Linked DNA regions of Homo sapiens. The protein of the gene in region 1 purifies or fractionates together with the protein of each later gene. This does not show direct contact. Each region holds a gene or a part of one and is shown on either strand. Other genes may lie near its edges.

Evidence for each region. Proteins that work in one complex are often made in the same cells at the same time.
Region 2: the proteins of TCEAL1 (region 1) and USP11 purify together in Homo sapiens (affinity purification with mass spectrometry; 6 studies listed by BioGRID, with this or other methods). This does not show direct contact.

What each region holds. Positions count from the first base shown.
Region 1 is NC_000023.11:103,627,057-103,630,805, reverse strand, and holds the start of TCEAL1 (transcription elongation factor A protein-like 1), read right to left. Parts: upstream 1,832-3,749; 5' UTR 1,781-1,831; intron 1,313-1,780; 5' UTR 1,233-1,312; intron 922-1,232; 5' UTR 890-921; coding exon 410-889; 3' UTR 1-409.
Region 2 is NC_000023.11:47,230,828-47,234,576, forward strand, and holds the start of USP11 (ubiquitin carboxyl-terminal hydrolase 11), read left to right. Parts: upstream 1-2,181; 5' UTR 2,182-2,216; coding exon 2,217-2,392; intron 2,393-3,749.

The DNA of each region.
Region 1 (3,749 bases):
TAAAACAAAAATTTAAAAAATCACCTATTATCTTACCACACAACCACTGTTATGCCTTTGAAGTCTATACTTTTAGCTTTTTCTTTGCATATTAATATATAAATATACATTTTTTTTACAAAAATGGGATACAATATATACCATTTGAAAATTGCTTTTTTCGTTTCACAATATATAATGTACATCTTTCATGCAAATGTGTAGGGCTCATGACTGAAAGAGGGAAACTTGTAGATTTTAGGGGGAAACCTCAACTTTAAGCGAGTTACATGCTAAACATCTAAAATAAAGCCTCACAAAAAGTTAAAATTCAGAATATGGGAAAAGGCATTAAGAAAATGCAAACAGAAAGTCCAGGTGGCAATGGCAATACTATTAGCAGGCAAAACAGAATTAAAGGCCGAACACATTAAATAGGATAAGGACGGCTCCGTTTTGCCTTCCAGTGCATTATCATCAGTTTGTTTCTTACTCTTTTCATCTCTTCTAGCTCATCTGCTGCCTGTATCATCTCCTCATTGCTTAAATTTCTGCCATGTATGTCCCCTCTAAATTGCGGGCGAGAACGAGCCAACCTTTCTTTAAAGCTTCCTTCTTCAAGCTTATGTTTTCCTACTCCACAAGGAGGCTGCTCCATGGGAGGGCGCCCCTCAAACAGGTCCTTCCTGGAAAGACCCTCCTGCGGAGGGCGCTCCTCCGAGAGGAGCATCTCAGGCAGGAGCTCAGGCAAGAGCTCCTCAGGAAAGAACTCCTCCTCCGAGGACTGCTCCTCCGAAGACTGCTCCTCGGGGGACTGCTTTTCGGGAGAGTGCTCCACCGGAGGCCTCTCCTCATCGGTCTTGGGCGCGCTCTGCGGCTCTTCTTCATTTTCTTTGCGTGGTTTGTCCATGTTGGGAATTTTCTTCTTCAAGCACAGTTATTCTTAGGAGACAAGAAAGGCAGAATAGAGTCAGAATACTAAGCGGCTGGACTAACACCCAGGCCGTGGGTTCCAATACCTGCCTTTTCCTGATTCGGGGGCCAGGTCCTCAACCTTGCGCTTTCCCAGAGGCTCTCCGGCTCTCCCGACTCCGCCGCTTCCCGGTCGCCCCCTCCTTCCCGAAAGCCCACCATTTTCCCAGCAGGCTTTGCTACAGGCCTCGCCCGCAGTGACAGGGGCGGGACAGTGCGGCCTGCAGACTCCATGCCTTTCGGCGTCCACCCTCGCGCCCCAGTCCCGGCCCACTGCGTACCCCTTCCCTGACCTGGACCTTTCCGGGCCGTGTGCTCCTAGTCGTCCTCTCCTCGAGGTGCCCCGCTGTGACCAGCAGACCTGCACACAGACGCAAGACAGGGTAGGGGGCGGGGAGTGGGGAGGAGGGACGGACTGACTGACACCCCCCACCCCCCACTTTCTGGGCACCAGCCACTGCCTGCACGCTCCCCTAGCTCTCGGGTTCTCTTTTCGTCTCAGCCCCTGCGTCAAGCTTCGTCCTCCGTGCTCCCACCTCCCCACCCCGCAAAGCTTGCCATTTCTTTTCAGATGAGAAGTGGAAGCGAAGCATTTTTAGAAACTATTTCCAAATGTCTGTACCCCCCTCCCGGGGGACGGGGGAGGTACTCGCCTCCCCACCCCGCCCCAAAGACCACCATATTTTGCACAGAAATGTGGGCGCGGGGGGCGGGGCTGGAGCTTAGGGAAAGGCCTGGACTCCGCCATCCCGATTCTGTCAACCCCATTCCCCGGGTTACTAGGCAGCGCCGACACTCACACCGATTTAAGAGGGTAGAGGGAACTTACTTCTTCTGCTTTCCCTCTCGACCAAAGGGTAATAGGGAGATGGTGGACAGGCAAAAAAAAGACCGGGACGAGAGGGACTTGGGCACATAGAGGCTCCTGGTCACGTGAGGGACGCGCGTCACTGCCGAACTCAGATCCCCAGTTACCACTTTGATCTGCGGCCCTGCCGCAGCCACCTGCTAGTGCCTGCTAGTGTTCTCTGACCCGAGACACACCAGGCATTGTCACTCACCTCTCTTTGTATTTGCCTTTTCCTGGTTGCCAGAGACGGTCCGCATCTAGTCTCGGGTAGTATTGCCTCTTCCTCTGTGCTACTTCCCCTAGTACCACCTCTTTCTCCCCTCCTCCCTTCCTTAGCCACCAAGGCCCCTTATTTCCCCTGCAGTTCAGATCCTGCACTGACGTTTGACTGTTCACCTTCATAAATCAGTATTATATCCTTATATCCCAACACTCTCAGTTTTAATCCACATCCGTATCTCCATCATGTCCATTTAGGCTCATTCAGCATGTTTCATCTCTTGTCACTTTCATGGGAGACAATCTTTCACTTTTTCTTGACATCACATTTTGTTTTTTTGAGCCCCCAGATCTAAATTGGTAATCATTCAGTTCGAGACCTGTAGAAAGAGTTGAGTTTGTAAAGTTTGTAGATCTAAAAAGAATGAATACTTTGATTTTCATAAATCAAATACGTATTTGTCCATCTAAGTACAAACAGTCCAGAACACTTATTATCTGAAATGGGATAGTCCTTGGTGGAGAGCTTGGCATTATTCTCTCTATGTGTGTATATATATACACACATATATATGCGTGTATATATATACACGCATATATATGCATGTATACACACTGAATAGATTATAAAATATATTTATATACATGTGTACATATATATAAATTATTCAGTAGTTATTCATAATAGAATAAATAGATTTTACTGGGACTCTCAATCCTTAACCAGCCACCTCTTGGTGCTTCTGGTTGAGGAAGTTTATATTAATTCACTAAATCAACAAATATTTGAGTTCTGGGACTGCTGGACCCCAAAAGATAGATGCAGCAGGGAGGGCATTCCATATTAAACTATGCAATAATTCTGTTGACCACATACTGAATAGCAGGACTACAATTATGCTAGCATTTTCAATTGTCATTGCAATATGTATTTTTTTTTATCTAACAGTATTTTATGATCTTTAACCTTATGCCTGCCTCTCATCTACTCACATCAGCCTGGATGCTACTTTCTTATGCAGATGCTCTTTCCCCTACAGAGCATACTACTTCCCTTCCCTCTGTGTTTTACACTTTCAGGGTAGATGACCATCTGATCTGTGAGGATCCTGGGATTTTGTTTTAAAGCCAGGCTGTTTAGTAAGTTTCTGAACAGAAATTCATGTGAAATTTCCCCTTTTAAGAACTGTTTGTTGCTTTTCTCTGATATCTGATTAACTTTGTGTTGAGATAGCATTTAGACAAATATTAGTTTACCTTCATATCTTTTTTATAACTGTTTTACTTTCCAATTTCTCTGTGAGATGTGTCTTTAAAACCAAGTTTCACTATGCCTTCTTATTTTTTCATCAAGGGTTGGTTTCTCATTTGTATAGTTTCTTTCCTAGAGAAGTCCCATTTCATTCATTTCTATCCTTATTCTTCTTAAATCCTGTGATGGAGAACTCACTGCCTTATAAGATATCTCACTGAAATCTCAGAAAGTTCTAATCATTCAGAGTTTTAAAATTAATTAATTAATTGATTTTTGCTTCTGTTGAGTTAAAATCTGCCTCCCAGTAGTTTACACACATTGGTCCTGGCTCTGCCCTGTGGAGTGGTACAGAACAGGTATAAAATAATAAAAGTACCTTTCATCCTTGACAGCTTAAAATTGCCACAGCTTCTATTCTGGTTCTTTCCCCTTCCATTCTGTGAGACACACTAGGCAATCTACTCAATCTTCTGT
Region 2 (3,749 bases), about 56 Mb from region 1:
ACAGAGTCTCTGTCGCCCAGGCTGGAATGTGGCGGCACAATCTTGGCTCACTGCAACCTTTGCCTCCTGGGTTCAAGCGATTTTCCTGCCTCAGCCTCCTGAGTAGCTGGGATTACAGGCGTGCACAACCACGCCCACCTAATTTTTTATTTTTAGTAAAGATGGGGTTTCACCATATTGACCAGGTTAGTCTCGAACTCCTGACCTCAAGTGATCCACCCACCTCGGCTTCCCAAAGTGCTGTGATTACAGGTGTGAGCCACCAAGCCCAGCCTCTACCGTGTCTTTCTAAGCACTTTAGTGATGTTTCAGCTTGCAGCCTCATGGTGCCATGATGACTGCCATGTCCCCAGAGATGGAAAAGCAAGCAGGGAAGACAGAACACCTTCCTTACCTGTCTGTGTTCTTTTAACGGCTGGAACTTCCACAAGCTCCTCAGCAGACTTCCTGTGCCATTTCTTGGCTAGAATCAGATGACATGGCCACTTCTGGCAGCAAGGGAGGATGGGAAAAGGAGGGCCTTGCAAAGGGGGACAGGATTGCCAGGCTGGATTTAAAAGGTCTAGAACTCACCCAACTGCTCTGGGAAGTGGTAGGGTCACTGGTGTGGGCAGAGGTTGGCCTCTGGAAGGTGGAAAAAAAAAAACGGTCTAGGGCTGGGAAAGGAGGTCTCTTGGATTTACCTGGCTGCCCAGATAAATGGGGAGGGGGAGTCTGCAGAGGGGCAATGGGGAGAATCAATTCAGAGAATCTGACAAGATTCAACTGGGCTTGAAGAGCAGCTATCTGCCATGTGTCTGACTCAACTCAAATGCCACTTTCTTTGGGGACCCTTAAGTGAAAGGCCTGCTCCCTTTCCTCACCCAGAGCTTACACAACTGAGTTTGTGACCCCTCATCTATGCCAGGTCTGGGCTGGGGGCTGGAATCACAGTAATAAAGACACAATCCCTGCCCCGCAGAGATTAACTGAAAATAGGTAAATTATGAAATTGTGAGGGGGAAGGGAGGTTCGAAATTAAAGTCATCATCAACGGGGCTGGCAGCCCCAGCAGAGGAAAGAATAGCATAGCCTAGAGCAGTGGTTCTCAACCAGAGACATTTTTCCCCCAAAGGACATTTGGTAATGTCTGGAGATACTTGGTTGTCCTGAGGGGTACTACTTGGTATCTAGTAGGTAGAGGCCAGGGATGCTGCTACATATCCTGCAATGCCCACAACAAAGAAATGACAGTGCTGAGGTTGAGAGACCCTGGCCTAGTCCAAGGGTTCTCAAACTTTGGGTCTCGGGATTCCTTTATGTTCTTAAAAGTTTAAGATATTCAAAAGAGTTTTTGCTTATGTCATATAGCCTCTGGATTCAGAAGCCTCTGGATAATCACACTGTACACCCCTGAGAGAATGAGAGTGAAAAAGTATTGTGAAAATAGTTTTCATTTTGTGAAACCCCAAGAGGATTTTTGGACCGGTAGACAGGCTGGGACCACTGGGACCACACGGTTGGAGAATGTTTGGCCTGGTGTTTAAGGTCACAGCTCTGAAACCAGATTTCTCAAGTCTAAACTGCAGCTCCACCACTAATTAGCTGAGGGACGTTTCTGGTACTCAGCGTCCCCATTGTTACCCATGGGTGACAAGGACAGTACCTGCTGCCTGAGGCTACTATTTTAGTCCAATAAAGCACTTAAACTGGGCGGACAGCTAGTTTAGTTATGATTGCTATGACTCCAACAAACATAGGGCCTGGGGCTAACTTGTCTTCAACACCTTGTCTAGTGAATAAATCTAGTTCAGGAAGAGAAACAACAGCCCGCAGGCCTCGGTGGGTCTCTGGAGGTGGAAACCTCTTTTGCATTGGGTTTTGATGGTACAATGAAGGGCATTCTGATCAGGCTAACAAAAACACTGCTCCCAGGGTAGGAGTCCTAGCCCACCTCGGGAACCTCAGCCTCCACTTTCCATGCCACCTGTGCCCTAAGTCTACAGGGCGTTAGGACCCCACAAGGCACTTTTGTCTTTCTTGGTTCCCACTGAAGATTTTACCCCACCTAGCCCTTCGACGCGTCTGTGCACGGGGCCATTTCCAATATGGCAGTAGCCCCGCGACTGTTTGGGGGGCTCTGCTTCCGTTTCCGGGACCAGAATCCGGAAGTGGCTGTTGAGGGGCGTCTTCCAATCTCGCACAGCTGCGTTGGCTGTAGAAGAGAACGGACGGCGATGGCGACGGTCGCAGCAAATCCAGCTGCTGCTGCGGCGGCTGTGGCGGCGGCAGCGGCGGTGACTGAGGATAGAGAGCCACAGCACGAGGAGCTGCCAGGCCTGGACAGCCAGTGGCGCCAGATAGAAAACGGCGAGAGTGGGCGAGAACGTCCACTGCGGGCCGGCGAAAGCTGGTGAGGCTGGGCTGCGGTGGAGCCTCGGCAGAGGGAACGGTGGGGGCATTGACAACCGCTGGGGATTCGGCGGCCGAGGGCCGCGGGAAAGCTGCTGCGGGGTGCGGGGGCGGGGGAGTGGCCGGCGGGACAGCGGGCTAAAGGGGCGGGGAAGTGCCTTTGAATGAATCGCAACGTCTGGAAAAGGGGCGGGGCCTGTGTGGTGCAGTCTGACGCCTGAGAACAAAATGGGGTTTGTTGTGATGAGACCAGTTTCGGTCCTGGAGGTGGGGCCGGGCCTGCGTAGTGAAACTGCGTAGGAACCTGGGAAGAAGGTGGGTTCTGCTACATAAGGCGGGGGCGCGGCCTGCGCTGCGTAATGCAACTTTTGGGGGCGAGGAGCGGTTTCCGATTGCTCCGGGGCGGCTGGGAACGAGGCGAGCTTTGTGACGTCAGCAGAAGAGCGGGATGGAGCCGAACGGTCCGAGGGAGGGAGCGGGGACCTCCGTGGGGGAGGGGGGAGGAGCCTGGAGCCTGGGAACGAGGTTAGGTTGGTGACGTGAGCTGAGGGGCGTGCTCTGAGGCCGAGGGACGACAGTGGAGGGGAGGTGGTGCCTATGAGGCAGAAAATGGCGCCTGCGAATAAGCAAAGTTTATGACGCGCCGTGGTTTTTGATTCTGGCGGAAGCCTTCCCGAGTCGAGAGAACGTGCAGGTGATTAGCACCGGAGGGGCCTTCCATGTTTAATTGGTTTTCTGTGTTGGTACTGTTTTGTTTTTAGAATCAAGAAAAAGTCGTTTTTTTAAAAAATAGAATTTTGATAAATCGGCTTGTTTTACTGATTTCTTGCTAAACAGTCCTTCTTGAAATTTACTGCTTCTGAGTTCATTTTATTTCTCGCCGAGTTGCATCTCGTTTTTTAATTGTGAAATACGTAAGACTTAAAAAGATTATATAAAACATTTACGCAGCCCAGATTGACGGACATCCTGTTAAAATAAACGGCCTACACTCTTCAAAAATGTCAGGATCATGAAAGACAAAGGCTGAAGAACTGTTCCAAATTGAAGGAATTAATGCAATTTAACGAGTCATGATAACTAAATGCAACATGTGATCCTCGATTGGATCCTGGAACAGAAAAAAAAATTATTTTAAAAATCAATTTTTTATCATAAGATTATTTTTGTCTCTTTTACTGTAAAAGGCAATGGAAACGTCGGTGAAATTTTATTAAAGTGGGTAGATACTAGTACTACTAATAATTGTGATCATTGTGGCTGTGAAAAATAATATCCTTGTTTATAGGAAATACTGAAAAATTTAGGGATAAGAACGCATCGTGTAAGCAGTTTATTCTCAAATGCCTGAAAAATTA